Regions from separate parts of the Homo sapiens genome. Here region 2 is linked to region 1. The links come from fine-mapping of genetic effects on gene expression. A gene starts in region 1. The other region holds a variant in brackets. All regions are shown on one strand. Distances are from middle to middle. Region 1 holds the start of HSPA6 (heat shock protein family A (Hsp70) member 6). Region 2 has its middle 13 kb from the start of FCGR3A.

Region 1 (8,736 bases):
CATACTCTTAATGTCCCTTTCCTTCTTCATTTTTCTCCATTGTGCTTATTACTACTGATGTACTATTAATATATGTTTACTGTTTGTTTTGTGTCTGACTTCCCCACTCCTCTCATTAGAATGTGAGCTCCAGGAGAGGTCTTTGTCTGTTTTGTTCACTACCACATACTCAGAGCCCAGGTCAGTGTCTAGTGCATAGTAAAGCGCTTAATAAATATGTGCGGAATGAGTAAATTCTTTGACGTTTGAAATCAGAGACTTTAAACTGGAAAGTCCTTAGAAACAATGTAGTCCAATCTCTTCATTTTAAAACGGAGGAAGCTGTGGCCCAGACAGGTGAAATGACTTGTTCAAGGACAAACAGGTAGTGGATGTCACTGACTTTTATATATATATAGTTTGGATTATACTACAAATTTTGTTCTATAGTGAAATGGTTTGGCTGTGTCCCCACCCGAATATCATCTTGAATTCCCACAACACATGGGAGGGACCCAGTGGAAGGTAACTGAATCATGGGGCAGGTCTTTCCCATGCTGTTCTTGTGATAGTGAATAAGTCTCATGAGATCTGATGGTTTTAAAAAGGGGAGTTTCCCTGCACAAGCTCTCTCTTCTCTTGTTTGCCACCATGTGAGACATGACTTTCACCTTTTGCCATGATTGTGAGGCCTCCCAGCCACGTGGAACTGTAAGTCCATTAAACCTCTTTCTTTTGTAAATTGCCCCGTCTCAGGTATGTCTTTATTAGCAGTGTGAGAATGGGCTAACACATACAACTTGCTTTTTTTTTGTACTCAATATTGAGTCGTGAGCTTTGCACCACATTAGAATGTCTATTTAAGTCATTACTTTAAGGTCGGTTCTATTTTTAAAGCTACTCAAACTAAGCTACTAAACATAAGTGGATATATTTAAGTGTATGTATAAAATTTATACTAGGCCAGCTGCAGTGGCTCATGCCTGTAATCCCAAAGCTGTGGAAGGTAGAGGTGGGACTGATTGAGGCCACGAGTTCAAGGCTGCAGTGAGCTGTGATTGCATCACTGTACTCCAGCCTGAGGGACAGAGCAGGAACCAGAAAAAAATAAAATAAAAAGAAACAAACAAAAAAACCCCCAACAACCCTACAGTGGCTCTTTTAGAAAAAACAAACAAACAAAACCAAAACTGTACTGCATGCATAAGCTCCCCTATGCTATGTTTGAACCACTCTGAAGAGATCAATTAAAAAGAAGTGAGTGATATTGGAAGCATGCCTCTGTGATGCTGTGGTAACATTCATAGGCTGCGTTAGGGCTATGCCTGTAACTCTTGGAGATGAGTGGGTAAGTGGGGTTTTGAGGTGGCTGGGGGCTGGAAGAGAAGGTTGGAGGAGCCCACACAAGACAGCCCCTTAACACGCCGGGGCACAGAACCCCAGGCTGGGCCAACTTTTCCCTGCTGAGGTGAAGACCCGTCTCTTGCAGGCCGTTGGCAAATGTCTTGACTCTGGCATCCAGGTGTGACCAGCTTAGACCCTGAGAGTGAGTGAATTTAAAGTTGACAGCTTCTTTCCCTTTTGGAATTATGAAATAGGTTACTTCTTTTCAAGGACAGTTTGATTTTCCACTGTGTAAGTCATATATTGCACATTTCTTTAAACATTCCCTTTTTTCCTGAACTGATCACCTTACCAGTACGGCTGATCCTCTCAAGCAGCAAACTCTACCAGCTGTCACTGGTGCTCTCGGAGAGACGATTAACCAAGGAACCCAGCCCGGGAACAGTACTGACCTCTACTTCTGGACTCCTGCCTCCCTCTTAAAAAGTCCCTTGAACTTCCTAGTGGGTTCTAACCTGTCAAAGGAGAAAATAGCCATCTATGGAGTAAGGGTTTTTAGTTTCTCTTTTTACAAATGGAAGTTTCCTCTGAATCAGGCAAGTAACGTTAAATAGAAGCCAACTTTTAAGTTTCTCTAACACACTGCTAAATTGTAACACCAGACTGTACCACATACTCTCCAGCTGCCAGCTATTGCAGTTGCCATCCTTGTTACTATAGTGGTGAGTATCTCTGCCTGTCATGCGTGAGAGAGGGGGTCGATTCCCCGACGGGGAGGTCACGGGAAATTGTGTGAGGATTTTGTCAACCTTCAGAAGTCTCAGAAATGTCTCCTTGTTTTGGCTTTCAGCGGAAATCCGAACGCCAGCAGATCTGAATGGAATGTTCTGGATTGAAGAAAGTGGGAAATGGCCTCAATTCACAAAGTCACAACCTGATAAAAACCAGTGTGACTTTACTGCCCAGTGAACCCATCTCGTCCTCCAGCCTTTAGGAGGTAGGTTGGACTGGAGCCTGCAGTAGTTTACTCTCCACCTGAGTCCTGGTCTCCAGCTGGGAACCCACTTAGGCCATAAAGAAAAACGCACACTGTGCCTCTCCACCGGGCCTCTGGAGACGAGGCTCCTCGGGGATACAAACAGTGGGGAGAACATGAGGGACATCCCGACCGTACTCTGCGTCCTCCTTTCCCAGGTGTTGCGTTCTCTCTTGGGCTGAGTGGCGAGGTCTCTCCCGAGTCCCAGGGCCACAGTGCAATGTCACATCTCCTTTGTGGAAAGTGACTGGTAAAGGAGAGAGAACAAAACTGGAGGAATGTAAAGTCTTCAGCCACCTGGTTTAATTTATTCAAGAGTGATTAATCCTAGATGAGAAAAAGAATTGAAATGGATCGGAAAAAAATGAAAGTGCATTGGCCGGGAATCGAACCCGGGCCTCCCGCGTGGCAGGCGAGAATTCTACCACTGAACCACCAATGCTACTGTCAGCTAAAGACCTGCAGTATTGTCTCTTAAAGCTCACTATCTCTGGCCATTCACTAAGGAACCAGGCACCGTCTTAAATCGCGGTTTGGAAAATATTTTGTTCAAGATAAAACTGTTTTAAGATATACGTGTATATATCTTATATATCTGTATTCGCATGGTAACATATCTTCGGCCTTCCTGAGCCGCTGGGCTCTCAGCGGCCCTCCAAGGCAGCCCGCAGGCCCCTGTGTGCCTCAGGGATCCGACCTCCCACAGCCCCGGGGAGACCTTGCCTCTAAAGTTGCTGCTTTTGCAGCCTCTGCCACAACCGCGCGTCCTCAGAGCCAGCCCGGAGGAGCTAGAACCTTCCCCGCATTTCTTTCAGCAGCCTGAGTCAGAGGCGGGCTGGCCTGGCGTAGCCGCCCAGCCTCGCGGCTCATGCCCCGATCTGCCCGAACCTTCTCCCGGGGTCAGCGCCGCGCCGCGCCACCCGGCTGAGTCAGCCCGGGCGGGCGAGAGGCTCTCAACTGGGCGGGAAGGTGCGGGAAGGTGCGGAAAGGTTCGCGAAAGTTCGCGGCGGCGGGGGTCGGGTGAGGCGCAAAAGGATAAAAAGCCGGTGGAAGCGGAGCTGAGCAGATCCGAGCCGGGCTGGCTGCAGAGAAACCGCAGGGAGAGCCTCACTGCTGAGCGCCCCTCGACGGCGGAGCGGCAGCAGCCTCCGTGGCCTCCAGCATCCGACAAGAAGCTTCAGCCATGCAGGCCCCACGGGAGCTCGCGGTGGGCATCGACCTGGGCACCACCTACTCGTGCGTGGGCGTGTTTCAGCAGGGCCGCGTGGAGATCCTGGCCAACGACCAGGGCAACCGCACCACGCCCAGCTACGTGGCCTTCACCGACACCGAGCGGCTGGTCGGGGACGCGGCCAAGAGCCAGGCGGCCCTGAACCCCCACAACACCGTGTTCGATGCCAAGCGGCTGATCGGGCGCAAGTTCGCGGACACCACGGTGCAGTCGGACATGAAGCACTGGCCCTTCCGGGTGGTGAGCGAGGGCGGCAAGCCCAAGGTGCGCGTATGCTACCGCGGGGAGGACAAGACGTTCTACCCCGAGGAGATCTCGTCCATGGTGCTGAGCAAGATGAAGGAGACGGCCGAGGCGTACCTGGGCCAGCCCGTGAAGCACGCAGTGATCACCGTGCCCGCCTATTTCAATGACTCGCAGCGCCAGGCCACCAAGGACGCGGGGGCCATCGCGGGGCTCAACGTGTTGCGGATCATCAATGAGCCCACGGCAGCTGCCATCGCCTATGGGCTGGACCGGCGGGGCGCGGGAGAGCGCAACGTGCTCATTTTTGACCTGGGTGGGGGCACCTTCGATGTGTCGGTTCTCTCCATTGACGCTGGTGTCTTTGAGGTGAAAGCCACTGCTGGAGATACCCACCTGGGAGGAGAGGACTTCGACAACCGGCTCGTGAACCACTTCATGGAAGAATTCCGGCGGAAGCATGGGAAGGACCTGAGCGGGAACAAGCGTGCCCTGCGCAGGCTGCGCACAGCCTGTGAGCGCGCCAAGCGCACCCTGTCCTCCAGCACCCAGGCCACCCTGGAGATAGACTCCCTGTTCGAGGGCGTGGACTTCTACACGTCCATCACTCGTGCCCGCTTTGAGGAACTGTGCTCAGACCTCTTCCGCAGCACCCTGGAGCCGGTGGAGAAGGCCCTGCGGGATGCCAAGCTGGACAAGGCCCAGATTCATGACGTCGTCCTGGTGGGGGGCTCCACACGCATCCCCAAGGTGCAGAAGTTGCTGCAGGACTTCTTCAACGGCAAGGAGCTGAACAAGAGCATCAACCCTGATGAGGCTGTGGCCTATGGGGCTGCTGTGCAGGCGGCCGTGTTGATGGGGGACAAATGTGAGAAAGTGCAGGATCTCCTGCTGCTGGATGTGGCTCCCCTGTCTCTGGGGCTGGAGACAGCAGGTGGGGTGATGACCACGCTGATCCAGAGGAACGCCACTATCCCCACCAAGCAGACCCAGACTTTCACCACCTACTCGGACAACCAGCCTGGGGTCTTCATCCAGGTGTATGAGGGTGAGAGGGCCATGACCAAGGACAACAACCTGCTGGGGCGTTTTGAACTCAGTGGCATCCCTCCTGCCCCACGTGGAGTCCCCCAGATAGAGGTGACTTTTGACATTGATGCTAATGGCATCCTGAGCGTGACAGCCACTGACAGGAGCACAGGTAAGGCTAACAAGATCACCATCACCAATGACAAGGGCCGGCTGAGCAAGGAGGAGGTGGAGAGGATGGTTCATGAAGCCGAGCAGTACAAGGCTGAGGATGAGGCCCAGAGGGACAGAGTGGCTGCCAAAAACTCGCTGGAGGCCCATGTCTTCCATGTGAAAGGTTCTTTGCAAGAGGAAAGCCTTAGGGACAAGATTCCCGAAGAGGACAGGCGCAAAATGCAAGACAAGTGTCGGGAAGTCCTTGCCTGGCTGGAGCACAACCAGCTGGCAGAGAAGGAGGAGTATGAGCATCAGAAGAGGGAGCTGGAGCAAATCTGTCGCCCCATCTTCTCCAGGCTCTATGGGGGGCCTGGTGTCCCTGGGGGCAGCAGTTGTGGCACTCAAGCCCGCCAGGGGGACCCCAGCACCGGCCCCATCATTGAGGAGGTTGATTGAATGGCCCTTCGTGATAAGTCAGCTGTGACTGTCAGGGCTATGCTATGGGCCTTCTAGACTGTCTTCTATGATCCTGCCCTTCAGAGATGAACTTTCCCTCCAAAGCTAGAACTTTCTTCCCAGGATAACTGAAGTCTTTTGACTTTTTGCGGGGAGGGCGGTTCATCCTCTTCTGCTTCAAATAAAAAGTCATTAATTTATTAAAACTTGTGTGGCACTTTAACATTGCTTTCACCTATATTTTGTGTACTTTGTTACTTGCATGTATGAATTTTGTTATGTAAAATATAGTTATAGACCTAAATAAGCTTTTAAAACTCCTTCTTGTTTTTCATTCCAACCAATCGAAGTACAAAAGTACCCAAAGGCTTTCAGAAGCAGAAAATGTTGGGGTGGGTGCTGAAGGAGGAATGTGAAGAATATTCCTGAGACCGTGTACATGATTCCTATAGGGGAAGGCAGGATTTGGAAAAGAATTTGAGGCCAATACATTGGAACAGTACTGAAGAGTTAGGGCTGGTAAAGAGGAGAGGATTGAGACTTACAATGCAGGAAGAGAGAGGGAGAGATGTGGAATTGGAAAAGCAGAGAATGAAGAGAAACTTAAGTACTGGCAGTGTTTCCATGTGTGATCCTATGATTCAAATTCTGTATTTTTGTCATAGGAACCTGGTTGAGTTTGTCAGTCTAGCTGTTTTAATAACACTAACAAATAGTTTACATGCTTATTAGCTGTTTGTAATCATGTCACTTTATCCATTGTTCTTTTAGAGAAAAGACTCTGAGTCCTGGACTCTGGAGGATGGTATATGTCAGAGGAAGTAGATCTGGTGGTACGATTAAAGTTACTATTGACTTTATCTATGTCAGAGAAATAGTATGATCCCATGTGGTTTCTGCCCATGGCATAATGAGGATGTTGGAACAAGACTCTATAGATTTTCAGCCCTGCCACTTTATATACTGTGCAAATTAAACTCTCCAAGCTTCAGTTTCCCCTTCCCTGCAGTGGGGATGATGATGATGATAACAGTACCAACCTCCAGACTGTTGTGAGGGTTCAATTAATTAATATATGTAAGAGGCAAAGAAGAAAGGTGTATAATATACTATCAACAAACATTAGCAATTACTATTAATTGTTAGTTGGGTGATAACTATGTATCAGGTACTTGACATACACAATCTAACTTAATCTTCACAGCAGCATTATGGAATACTATCTTCTTTTTGAAGATGAGCATTATGAGGTTCAAAGAGGTTAAACAATTTATTCAAAGACACAAAGCTATAAAGTGGGGACAGGAAGGCTGGAATGAAGAACCCTGTCCTGCCTGAGTCTAGAGCCTCAGCATGCCACCTTACAAATAGGCCATAACTCCACTTATTACCAGACCTTCCCCTAGATGTTTTGAAATTGGTCATATTATTCCTTTGAAACACAGCTGGATGCTGAGCCCCGTGAGAAAAAGTGTGCATTTTATTGTATACTTGCAGAGACAGAGTCTTGCTCTGTCGCCTAAGCTGGAGTGCAAAGGTGCGATCTCAACTCACTGCAACCTCTGCCTCCCGGGTTCAACCGATTCTCCTGCCTCAGCCTCCCCAGTAGCTGGGATTACAGTTGCCTGCCATCACACCCAGCTAAGTTTTGTATTTTTAGTAGAGATGGGGTTTCACCATGTTGGTCAAGCTGGTCTCAGACTCGTGACCTCAGGTGATCTGCCCACCTCAGCCTCCCAAAGTGCTGGGATTACAGGTGTGAGCCACCACGCCTAGCTAGTTGTGTGTTTTTTATAGCAAGTGACGGAATCTGCAAAATATCCTTAGGCACAACTTTACTGCCAGTTGAGTCAATGACAATATAAAAGCAAGGATATTTGCCTTTGCTTTGTTGGTGTAAACAAAATAATCAAAAGGATAAACTTGTGTTAGTTCCCAGTCAATCCAATCCAGAGTATATTTGCCCTATGGGCATTGGGAGATTTATTTTTATCTCAGAAATTATGGGAGAGCTTGGCTAGAACAATGCTACATTATACATTATATTTCTTAGGTTGATTTTTTAAAGACGGAGAGAAGGTTACACTAACAACTCACTTGTCCCTGGCTGTCATTTCACATTTTTAACTGCCCTCTTTTCCTGGCCCTGGCCCAAGTCTTACGCAGCCTGGCTTCACATGGAAGGAACCTGAAAAAAAAAAAAAAGAGAGAGAGAGATGGAGTAACACGTACATCCTGCATTACATTCTTCCTTTCCTGAATCTCATCTCAATTCTCAACATTGACCCCCCTCAACCTGTTTGAACTTCTCAAGAGGATTGATAGTACTCACTTTTTTATAGTTTCTTAGTATTTTGATAGTATGCCTTTTATCCTTTTAAAAAACCCAACACACACAGAATATAAGAAGAAAGATTTTTATCGTGTTTAGTTGTGACATCTCAGATCCTCCCATTTGAGTGCAATCTATTTTTCTATAGAGAAATATAAACAAACTTTATTTACTTTTAAACGTCTGTTGATCATTTTGGTTTAGTTTCTTTGGGGACTGTTTCTTGTATACTAGGTATCTAAAAATCCTTATATTGTATGTAGTCTTAGTTTGATTATTGTAATCACAACTATGTCACCCAGTTCCAAAGGGGGGGAAAAAAGTTTGAACAAATTAAATCAGAACACATGCCCATTATTAAAAAAATCAATTCTTGGTACAAGCAGTTTCTTGCCCCCTTCCCAGGTCCTACTCCTCACAGGCAACCACTTTCAAGTTGTTGGTTTTTTAAAAGAATTTTTGATTTTGCAATAATTTTAGATGAACAGACAAGTTGCAAAGATACTACATAAAGTCATTACTCTATATCCTTTCTACTTCCCCTAATGTTAAAACCTTACATAACCATGTTATATTTATCAAACCTAAGAAATTGGCATTGGTATAACATTAATGACTAACTGTAGATTTTATTCATGTTACTTTTTTTTTTTTTGGACACAGGGTCTCACTCTGTACGCCAGGCTGGAGTGCAGCCTGGAGTCAGCCGATCTCGGCTCACAAAAACCTCTGCCCCCTGGGCTCAAGAGATTCGCCTCAGGCTCCCGGAGTAGCTGGGACTACAGGCGCGAACCCCGGGTACTTGGGAGGCTGAGGCACGAGAACCGCGTGGACCGGGAAGACGGAGGCTGCAGTGAGCCAAGATTGAGCCACTGTGCTTCAGCCTGGGGTACAGAGTGAGACCCTGTCTAAAAAAAAAAAAAAAAAAAA
Region 2 (8,881 bases), 37 kb after region 1:
ACTCTTCTTTGCAAGACCAACGGGTAGCCAGGCCCAAACCAGGCCTCCTTTGTTCTTCTTAGATCCTCATCAACAGGCTTATTAACCCTTTCTCCTGTCTCTTTTTCCTCTTGATGTTAAATAGTACTTAGTTTGTTGTGGAACGTTTAACCTATAACATTTATGTAAATGTTATAGGTAGAGAGGATTGCCATATTTGGGAGAGAGGGTCTCTCTCTCTCTCTCCCACTGGACGTGAACAAGGGCTCATTTTGTCCTAAGGTCTTGCTGGCAGCTATCCTTAAGACTTTATAACATTTAGGAAGCTATACAGCTTCTCTTTCTGCTGTAGTCTAATCACCAGAAGTTATAAGCCCACCCAGATTCAAGGGTAGAGGATGTAGGCCTCATTTCTTGATGGAGAGAGTGTCAAAGAATTTGCAGCCGTGTTTTAGTGCTGCCACAACTAGCTACTCTAATACACTTTAAAGATTTCTTGATTCTTCGGTGGTGTGATTAGAGTAAAATCCTGAAAAATAGAAAGGCCTGGGGGAAGGGGAGACTGTAAGATCTAGGGAAGGGAAGATTTTTTATCCTATTCTAAGAACAATCACAGGAAGAAGGGAGGTAGTTGGTACTAACTAGAAAGAAGCAAGTCAGACAGACATTATCCATTCATCCCCTCCCAGGTCCAAGAGTTTGCTTACGATTATAAACAGCAAGAAGACTGTATTTCGTGATGCTCTCTTAGCTCAGGGCTACAGAGCAATGCTGTTGTATGTAGGAAAGAATGATTTCTTGAACTTGAATCCACAGTAGGTTCTGAGTTTTTTCCAACTCAACAATTGCTATGACTCAGTTAACTCAACAAATAGAATATGATGTACTAGCCTGATATCCATCCCTCTCCCTCCCTTCTAATATAACCTTGATTCTATTCAGGAATCACCCTCATATGCAGAGGTGGATCTTGACTGATCTAAGCCACTCAGGGTGTAGCATTCCCCTGGCTTTTATTGGTTAAGTGGGAGAAGACGGAACTTTGTCCTAAATAGGGCCAATCTGGTAGAGGGGAGTGCCATGTTTGGGAGAGATGATCTCTCTCTCCCACTGTACATGAACAAGGGCTCATTTTGTCCTAGGTTCTGCTGGCAAAACCTAAGATTTTGAAGGCAGCCAGTCTGAGGTCAATGCCAAATAGCCAAGGAGGACAGAGTGGAGGGATAGAATATGGTCTTGGTGACATCACTGAGCTTCTAACGCAACCAACCCAGATTTCTTACAATTTCAAGTAAATTTCCCTGCTGTTTAAGCCAATTTAAGTCAGGGCTTGTTACCTTCATCCAAAGGCATCCTAGTGAATACCTTGGTATTTACTGAGTACCTACTAAAAAGATAAGAAACTCTCTTTCTGGAAGGAGCTAATAATGAACAGGGGAGGAAACTTGACATTTAATGAAGAAGAAAGAAATGCTGACCTGGAGACCAGGAGCTCTAGACCTAGCTATGTCACCCAGGGTGACCACCGATTAAATTGTCTAGATCTCAGTCTCTACAATCATGAAATGAGAAAGTGGAGTGTGGACTGTATGTTTGCTAAGATCTCCTCTGGCTAAATTACTGTGTCTTAATGTCAACTAGAGGAAATATGATGCCCCCACTTTTTTTTTTTTTTTTTTTGGTAAGCATCAGTGGTCCACAAAGAATTTAACAATTGGTACCAACAGAGAGGCAAAAAATACCTTTTTTTTTTTAGACAAAGCCTCACTCTGTCGCCAAGGCTGGAGTGCAGTGGCATGATCTCGGCTCACTGCAATCTCTGCCTCCCGGGTACAAGCGATTCTCCTGTCTCAGCCTCCCAAGTAGCTGGGATTACAGGCATATGCCCCCATGCCCAGCTAATTTTTGTATTTTTAGTAGACACGGGTTTTCGCCATGTTGGCCAGGCTGGTCTCGAACTCCTGACCTCAGGTGATCCACCCATCTCGGCCTCCCAAAGTGCTGGGATTACAGGTGTGAGCCACTGGGCCTGGCCAAGAAGGAATATAATTGCCTTTTAAGAAAATATTCTGCTTGCTTTCTTTTTTAGAGATGAGGTCTCACTGTGTCAGCCAGGCTGGATTAAAAAACTCCTGGACTCAAGCAGTCCTTCTGCCTCAGCCTCCTGAGTAGCCAGCACTACTGCCTGGCTTCTACTTGCTTATTTTAATATTAATAACAAAATATAGTAAGCTCTGAGCTTTAAATACAATAGATATCAAAATTATTTAATAAAAAATATTCATGGTCCCAGCATGGTGGCTCATACCTGTAATCCCAGCACATTGGGAGGCTGAGGCAGGAGCATTGCTTGAGGCCAGGAGTTCAACACCAGTCTGGGCAACCTGGCAAAACCCCATCTCTTAAAAAAATTCAAAATAAGCCAGGCCTGGGGCTACATGCCTGTGGTCCCAGCTACTTGGGAGGCTGAGGCGGGAGGATCACTTGAGCCTGGGAAGTGGAGGTTGCAGTGAACTGTGATCGTGCAACTGCACTCCAGCCTGGGCAACAGAGCGATACCCCGTCTCAAAACAAAACAAAACAAAATATTCACCATTATGTGTCTAGTAAAGTGAAGAAAAGAAATAGGAAAGGAAACTGTCAATATAAAAGAAAAGGGAGGAGAACAGGCAGAGTTAGAGACATAAAGACACAAAATGGGATGGGACTTAGAGGAAAACCAGTGAGAGAAAACTCAGAAAGACACAGTTACTGGGACAGTAAAAAACAAAACAAAACAAAAACCCACAAAAAACTGAGAGAGACACCCAGGTTTTCAAATATGGTGTCTTAAAAATAGATAGAAAATGCATGAAGAGCAAGGCATCTACTGAGAGGTCTGGAAACAGACACACCTCGAGATACATCATACAAAGGCAGTCATGGGACAAGGAGAGAACACTTTCACAAAACCAGGAAGAGATAGACAGACAACAAGGGAAAAAAAGCACATGGGATTGAAGCAGATTTTGTGGGATGACCTTAAGCTGCACCTGTTTTCTTTGGCTGTGGTTATTAAAATAATATGACCTGTTGACATACAAGAACTTTCTAAAATTTTATGCTATAGCCAAGAGTGAGTTTTAAATGCCCTGCCTTGTGCTATCTCACATCAGAACATGCTTAGATGCCTCCCAGACTTGCAAGTTTTTAAAGTTTCAAAAAGAGAGTGATGGCGATGTGTTATGGGAAGGATACTGGCCAAGGAGGAAGGAAATCTCAGTTTTGGTTTCGGTCTGACAGGGGTCAGTTGTCAAGCCACTTCTCTTCCCTGAACTTGTTTCCTCATAGCAAAGTGAGGTAATCGGGCTAGATTATATCTAACTCTTTCCATCTTAAATATTCTCTAATTCTGAATGTTGCCTTCCAGTGGTAATTTCTAGATATTGCAGAATGTAGTAGCCTTTGTCTTCTAAAAATCCTAATGAAGGCAGCTTTTGGGAGCCAAAAGGATTTTCTAGCAGAGCTAGCAAGTTATACTTCTAAGAGTTAAAAGTTAATTATAAAAACTAAATTCATGCTTCTGCTCATGTGCAAAATCTTCAGAATCTACCAGAACAATACAAGGTAACACCAAAAAGAAAACTTAGTTTTTGAAAAAGTTTTTGAAAAAGAAGTGGAAATACTGTTTTGTGTTGTTCTGTTTTTATCCGTGCCATCCCACTGGAGAAGAGAGAAAGGTTGGCAACATCATTGGGAGTATGAGCAGAGCTCAGAACCATCCCTAGAGACTCAGTCCTTGTCCCTTTCGCCAATATTTTGTTATTGTGGCTTTAAGCACTTTTTGGTTTGAAAATACACGCGTGATCTATATATGTTCTTGTTGCAAATAAGTGAAACAATTCGGACGTAAATAAAATAAAAGTAACAGTGAGATTTAATGACTCCCTCCCCCAATTTCACTCCCTTCCTCAGAGGTAACCCCTTAGAAGCTTGTAGTATATCTTTCCAGAACTTTCCCCATACACTTATATTCATATAAGCACACATCCACCTATATGTATTTATATTTTCTTCATTTTTGTTGTTATTGTTAGCATAGTACATAATGCATATTATTCTGCAACTTCCTTTTTTATAATGATTCCACATATACATAAACACCATGTTGTTTCACCATGTTGGCCAGCTGGTCTCGAACAACTGCAAACTCCACTCAACATCTTTCACATTTCACGTTAAATGGGAGGAGAAATGCTTAAAAAATGTATTTGAGGGTGTGTGGAAAGGAAGAAATGGTATTACTTTGACTTTCTTTTTTTTTAAAAAGATTTGGGTCATTTTGGCCACCAAAACAGGAACTTTATCCTGTATGGGCAGTTGCCTACTGCACAGCCATTTCTTCCCTTCTTCTTTGCTAA[C/T]GGAACTTGATTTCGTTTAGCAATGTTGTGGTCATGAGCTGTAGAGAAGCCTAGACCTTTTCCAGCCTCAGTGTGTGAACTTTCAGTTAGTCTAAACCAGTGGTTCTCAAATTTGAGCTACATCAGAGCCATTTGGAGGGCTTGTTAAAAACACAACTTGGTGAGCTCTACTCTACCCTCCGAGTTTCTGATTCTGGTGGGGCTTGAGAATGTGCATTTCTAACAAGTTTCCAGGTAATGCTGATCTTGGCACAAGGACCACACTTTGAGAACTGCCGCTCTAAGCCAATTATGGTGTTCTATTGTCTTGCCATGCTTAGGACTAAGCATATGATACAGTTCTGGACAATTAATCCTCAGGGATAATCTGCTAGAGGGATTCTGGGACACAGGAAGTAACGAGTTCTTTCTCAGTCTTTGGACATGGTGATGCTTAAAGATGTGATGCTGGGAGCTACTACGGCAGCCAACTTGCTTCCAGAGAAGACTGGCTGACATGCTGAGAGTAGCAAAGCAAAGAGAGGGAAGAATCTGGGTTACTGATGACATTATTGTAGATTAAACAGCTCTGGAGCTGCCCTAACTTCAAGAAACTTAATATGTGAGATAGTAAAACATTTATTGTTATTTAAGCCATTTGAGCAGAATTTTCTGTACTTGCTTCAGAAAGCCACCTAACTGATTCATTCATACCCCTCTCTCTCAGTGCTCAGGGAGACTCCAGCTGATGTAGCAGCAGAGCAATTTACTTGAAGCATGATTTTGGATATTTTAGGTTGTTTCTAATTTTCATTATCATTCAGTAGCTCTGCAAAGAGTAACAGTGCTTTTGTATATTTTGGGATATTTCCAAAGGTCATTTTCCCAGAAGCAAAATTACAATGTCAAAAGTACATGAATTTCCAAGGTTTTGATAGTTTTTCCAAATCTCTTTCCAAAACAATTGTTTTAATTTCTACCCTATTCAGAAATATATGCAAGTTCATTTAATCACGTTCTTTTTTCTTAATTGTGGGCAATTTCATAGCTGAGAAATGGGGTCTCATAATTTTTATTTGCATTTATTTGATTACTAGTGTGGAATCAACATTTACCATGTGTCTGTCAACCAGTTGCATTTCCTCTTTCATATTGCTATTAGATGGAAAGCACTTAGCACCATGTCTGGCCCTCTTGGATATTTATTTTTTGTTTAACTAAATGTTTTTGGGTTTCTCTATTGATATCCCTGCCTTTGCCTATTTATCAAAACTCTATGTTCTTCTCATTAATTTCTTATATAATAAAAATACCCCTTTGCAGGGAGACATGAATTTTTACACATTTTTTTTCCAGTTTGCAGTTAGTAGTTTGTTTTTGGTTGGTTTTAGTTTTGTATCATTCCGAAATTTAAAAGTTTTATGAAGGTGTTTTCTTTTCTTTCTTTCTTTTTTTGTTTTTTTTTTTTTTTTTTTTTTGAGACAGAGTCTCACTCTGTTGCCCAGGCTGGAGTGCAGTGGCATGATCTCCGCTCGCTGCAACCTTTGCCTCACTTCCTGGGTTCAAGTGAGCACGTTCGGCTAATTTTTGTATTTTCAGTAGGGACGGGGTTTCACCATGTTGGCCAGCTGGTCTCGAACTTCTGACCTCATGTAATCCGCCTGCCTCCGCCTCCCGAAGTGCTAGGATTACAGGCATGAGCCACCACGCCTGGTCTCTTTTCCTTCAGAGAATTTACTCAAGATTCAATTCTATTATCCTCTGGTGTATCCATAGCTTGATTCGTGTGTTTCACTCTATGATCCTTATGAAACAGATTTGCTTGTATTCTGAGAGGAGCTGTCTGCTTAACAACTTGCCTGGCTCGAGGGGCTTACTAATGCCTTTTAGCTCCCTGCTTTTTGACTCTCTTTACAACTCTCCTTAGAACCCAACAAAAAGAGACATAAAATAAGTGACATAAAAATGTGAAATGCTTAAACCATTTATTTTACATTGCTGACTTTTTTCCATGTATCTTTCCTTTCTGATTAGTACTTAAAATCAAGGCAGAAGCACCTTAAAGATAGAAATGGCTAAATATTCTTGAACCTTTCAATCGTAGGATGCCAGAACAGGCCTCTAGCGTAGAAAATGTCTATACTGAGATCAAAGAGTCTCCCCTAGAGCAGAGTTTGTTGTATTCTGAGTATGAGGAGAGTAGGACAGTGTGATGGAGCTGCAGTGGAGTAAATGGGTTTTGGTATCACAGTGCTTTACAGAACACATTAAGGAGTTTGGGTTTTGTCGTGAGGGTGTGGGGAGCCACTGAATTATTTGAAGCAGGAAAGTGACATAATATAATTTGTACTTTAACAAAATTACTCTGGTTGCTGCTTGTAAATAGGCTGGAGGAGTAAGACTGGGAGCAGAAAGATGAGTTGGTCTCTTGCGGTAGTCATGGTGGCAGATGAAGATAGCCTCAGGCTAAGGTAATGGTGGTGGGGTTGAGATATTTAGCAAGGAGAACTGGCACAATTGGATGTGGGTTATGAAAGAGAATGTGGGAATCACAATGATATCCAGATTCCTGCCTTAGGAGGTGCCATTCCCTGAGGTGGGGAATATGATGGAAAGAAGCTTAGCTGGAAGGGGTTGTGGAGAGATGGTAAGTTCAGGTTTGGATATTCTGCGTTTGAGGTGCCTGTGGACATAGCAGGGGAGTGGTCAATATCAGCTGGGTAACTGGAAGGAGAAATCTGGGCTAGAGCTAGAGACACAGACTGGAGCTGAATTGTGCTTTTAGAAAATTAACTGGAAGCCAAAGAGATGACTCCTTATTTGCTGATACCTTGCAGCAGGTCTATTTCCAGTGACAAGGAGGCAAGTTTGAATTGGTTAGAGCCTCATTCACAGTTCTTCAAATGTTCTTGTCAAGTATTTACTTGCTACTAAGGAGGATGGCTTCAACCTTCCCCAGGACCATTTTCCAGCATCCTTCAGCATGTTTGCTTAGGACCAAGTTCCCACCCTACTGAATTTTACCCTTGCTGGAGACACATGCACTTGATACAGTTAAAGGGCAAAACAGGCCTGATGGGGAGGTTCCAACGCATTTGCGTTGCAGACCGTAGGCGTTAGAATCTAACTCCTAGTTTTCTACTACAACTTCAAATGCCACCCTCCTCACTAAGGGTCTAAAGCCAGAGTGCGGATGAATGAATCAAGCCTTTCTTTCTGAGTACCACTGTCTGAAGTCATGCTGAGGTCAAGAGACATTCAATCAGAAGAGCAGACCAAGTGGCTTAAGGTAAGTGCAGCCCCGGGTTCTCCTTGCTCTGGACTCTTTTTTTTTTTTTTTTTTTTTTTTGAGACGGAGTCTCCCTCTGTCGCCCAGGCTGGAGTGCAGTGGCGGGATCTCGGCTCACTGCAAGCTCCGCCTCCCGGGTTCACGCCATTCTCCTGCCTCAGCCTCCCAAGTAGCTGGGACTACAGGCGCCCGCCACTACGCCCGGCTAATTTTTTGTATTTTTAGTAGAGACGGGGTTTCACCGTTTTAGCCGGGATGGTCTCGATCTCCTGACCTCGTGATCCGCCCGCCTCGGCCTCCCAAAGTGCTGGGATTACAGGCGTGAGCCACTGTGCCCGGCCTGCTCTGGACTCTTAATCTCACTCCCCTAGACCATTAGTTGGCTGTTTGTTGCATTAAACCACTCAGATCTCTCTTTCATTTCCTTGTAAACTGGATTCCTTTGTCCTGCAGAAGAGATGTACACTGTCCACTTTTGTTTCAACAGAGGGCAGTAGAGAACAGCAAACAGTTTACATTTCTAAGCCCAGAAGAAACAAAACAAATCCATTTACAACATTCTCCCCAGGTCAAGGTACCCAAAATATGGCACACTGTGCTTCGTGTGTTCATAAATGGGGCATGTCTTTGTGAAAGTAGGGCAGATCCCGGAGAGTCAGCGACTCGTAGACGACTCTTCCTCTTGTGAACAACAGTTTAGTTATGTGTAACTCATGGAAGGCTTTATGGAGAAGGAGTTTGATCTTGAAGGATAAGTATGAGTTGGCAAGATAGCTTTGTTCACAGAAAGCAGCATGGGCTCAAACATGGCAATAGCATGGCAAGCTTGGGGAAGTTAGGAATAGGATTGGGCAGAATCTGACAAGACCGCAATATACCTCAAGACTCTAGGTGCTGGAATCTTCAGTATGGCACATAGCATCCTGTGCCGTGGGGCAGCTGTGATATTACATACACTCTCAGATGCTATGTGCCATCCCGAAGTGTTTGAATGTCACTTTGAAGGGTTTAATATCATCCTGAAAGCAATGTAAAATCATTGAAGAATTTTGAGTAGGGTGGTGATCTAACCTATTAGGCAATTTGAGATTTTCTTGTTTGTTTTTAATTGAGGTATATCATGGTCTTGTTAATCTTTTAAACTTTAGCCACCCAGGTGGGTATACAGTGATATTGTGTTTTTAATGTGCGTTTCCCTGATAAGTAGTGACTTATTATCTTTTTATGTGCTTAT

What was found. PIP is the estimated chance that this variant, and not a neighbour inherited with it, causes the effect.
Region 2: its variant is fine-mapped to the expression of HSPA6 in whole blood (TOPMed, PIP above 0.99). The same link has a PIP of 0.9 or more in blood mononuclear cells.

The regions. Positions count from the first base shown.
Region 1 is chr1:161,521,117-161,529,852 of GRCh38, forward strand. It overlaps HSPA6 (heat shock protein family A (Hsp70) member 6), which reads left to right and starts at 3,424. Exons shown (of 1, transcript NM_002155.5): 1 at 3,424-5,778. The coding sequence starts at 3,543. The coding sequence ends at 5,474. TRG-GCC2-1 (tRNA-Gly (anticodon GCC) 2-1) reads right to left here and starts at 2,801; the gene lies at 2,731-2,801. It also overlaps a transcript of FCGR2A not described here and the pseudogene TRD-GTC10-1.
Region 2 is chr1:161,558,224-161,567,104 of GRCh38, forward strand. No RefSeq gene overlaps it. Among named protein-coding and RNA genes, the nearest start is that of FCGR3A, 13 kb to the left of the region's middle. The variant C/T (reference allele first, on the strand shown) is at 4,380.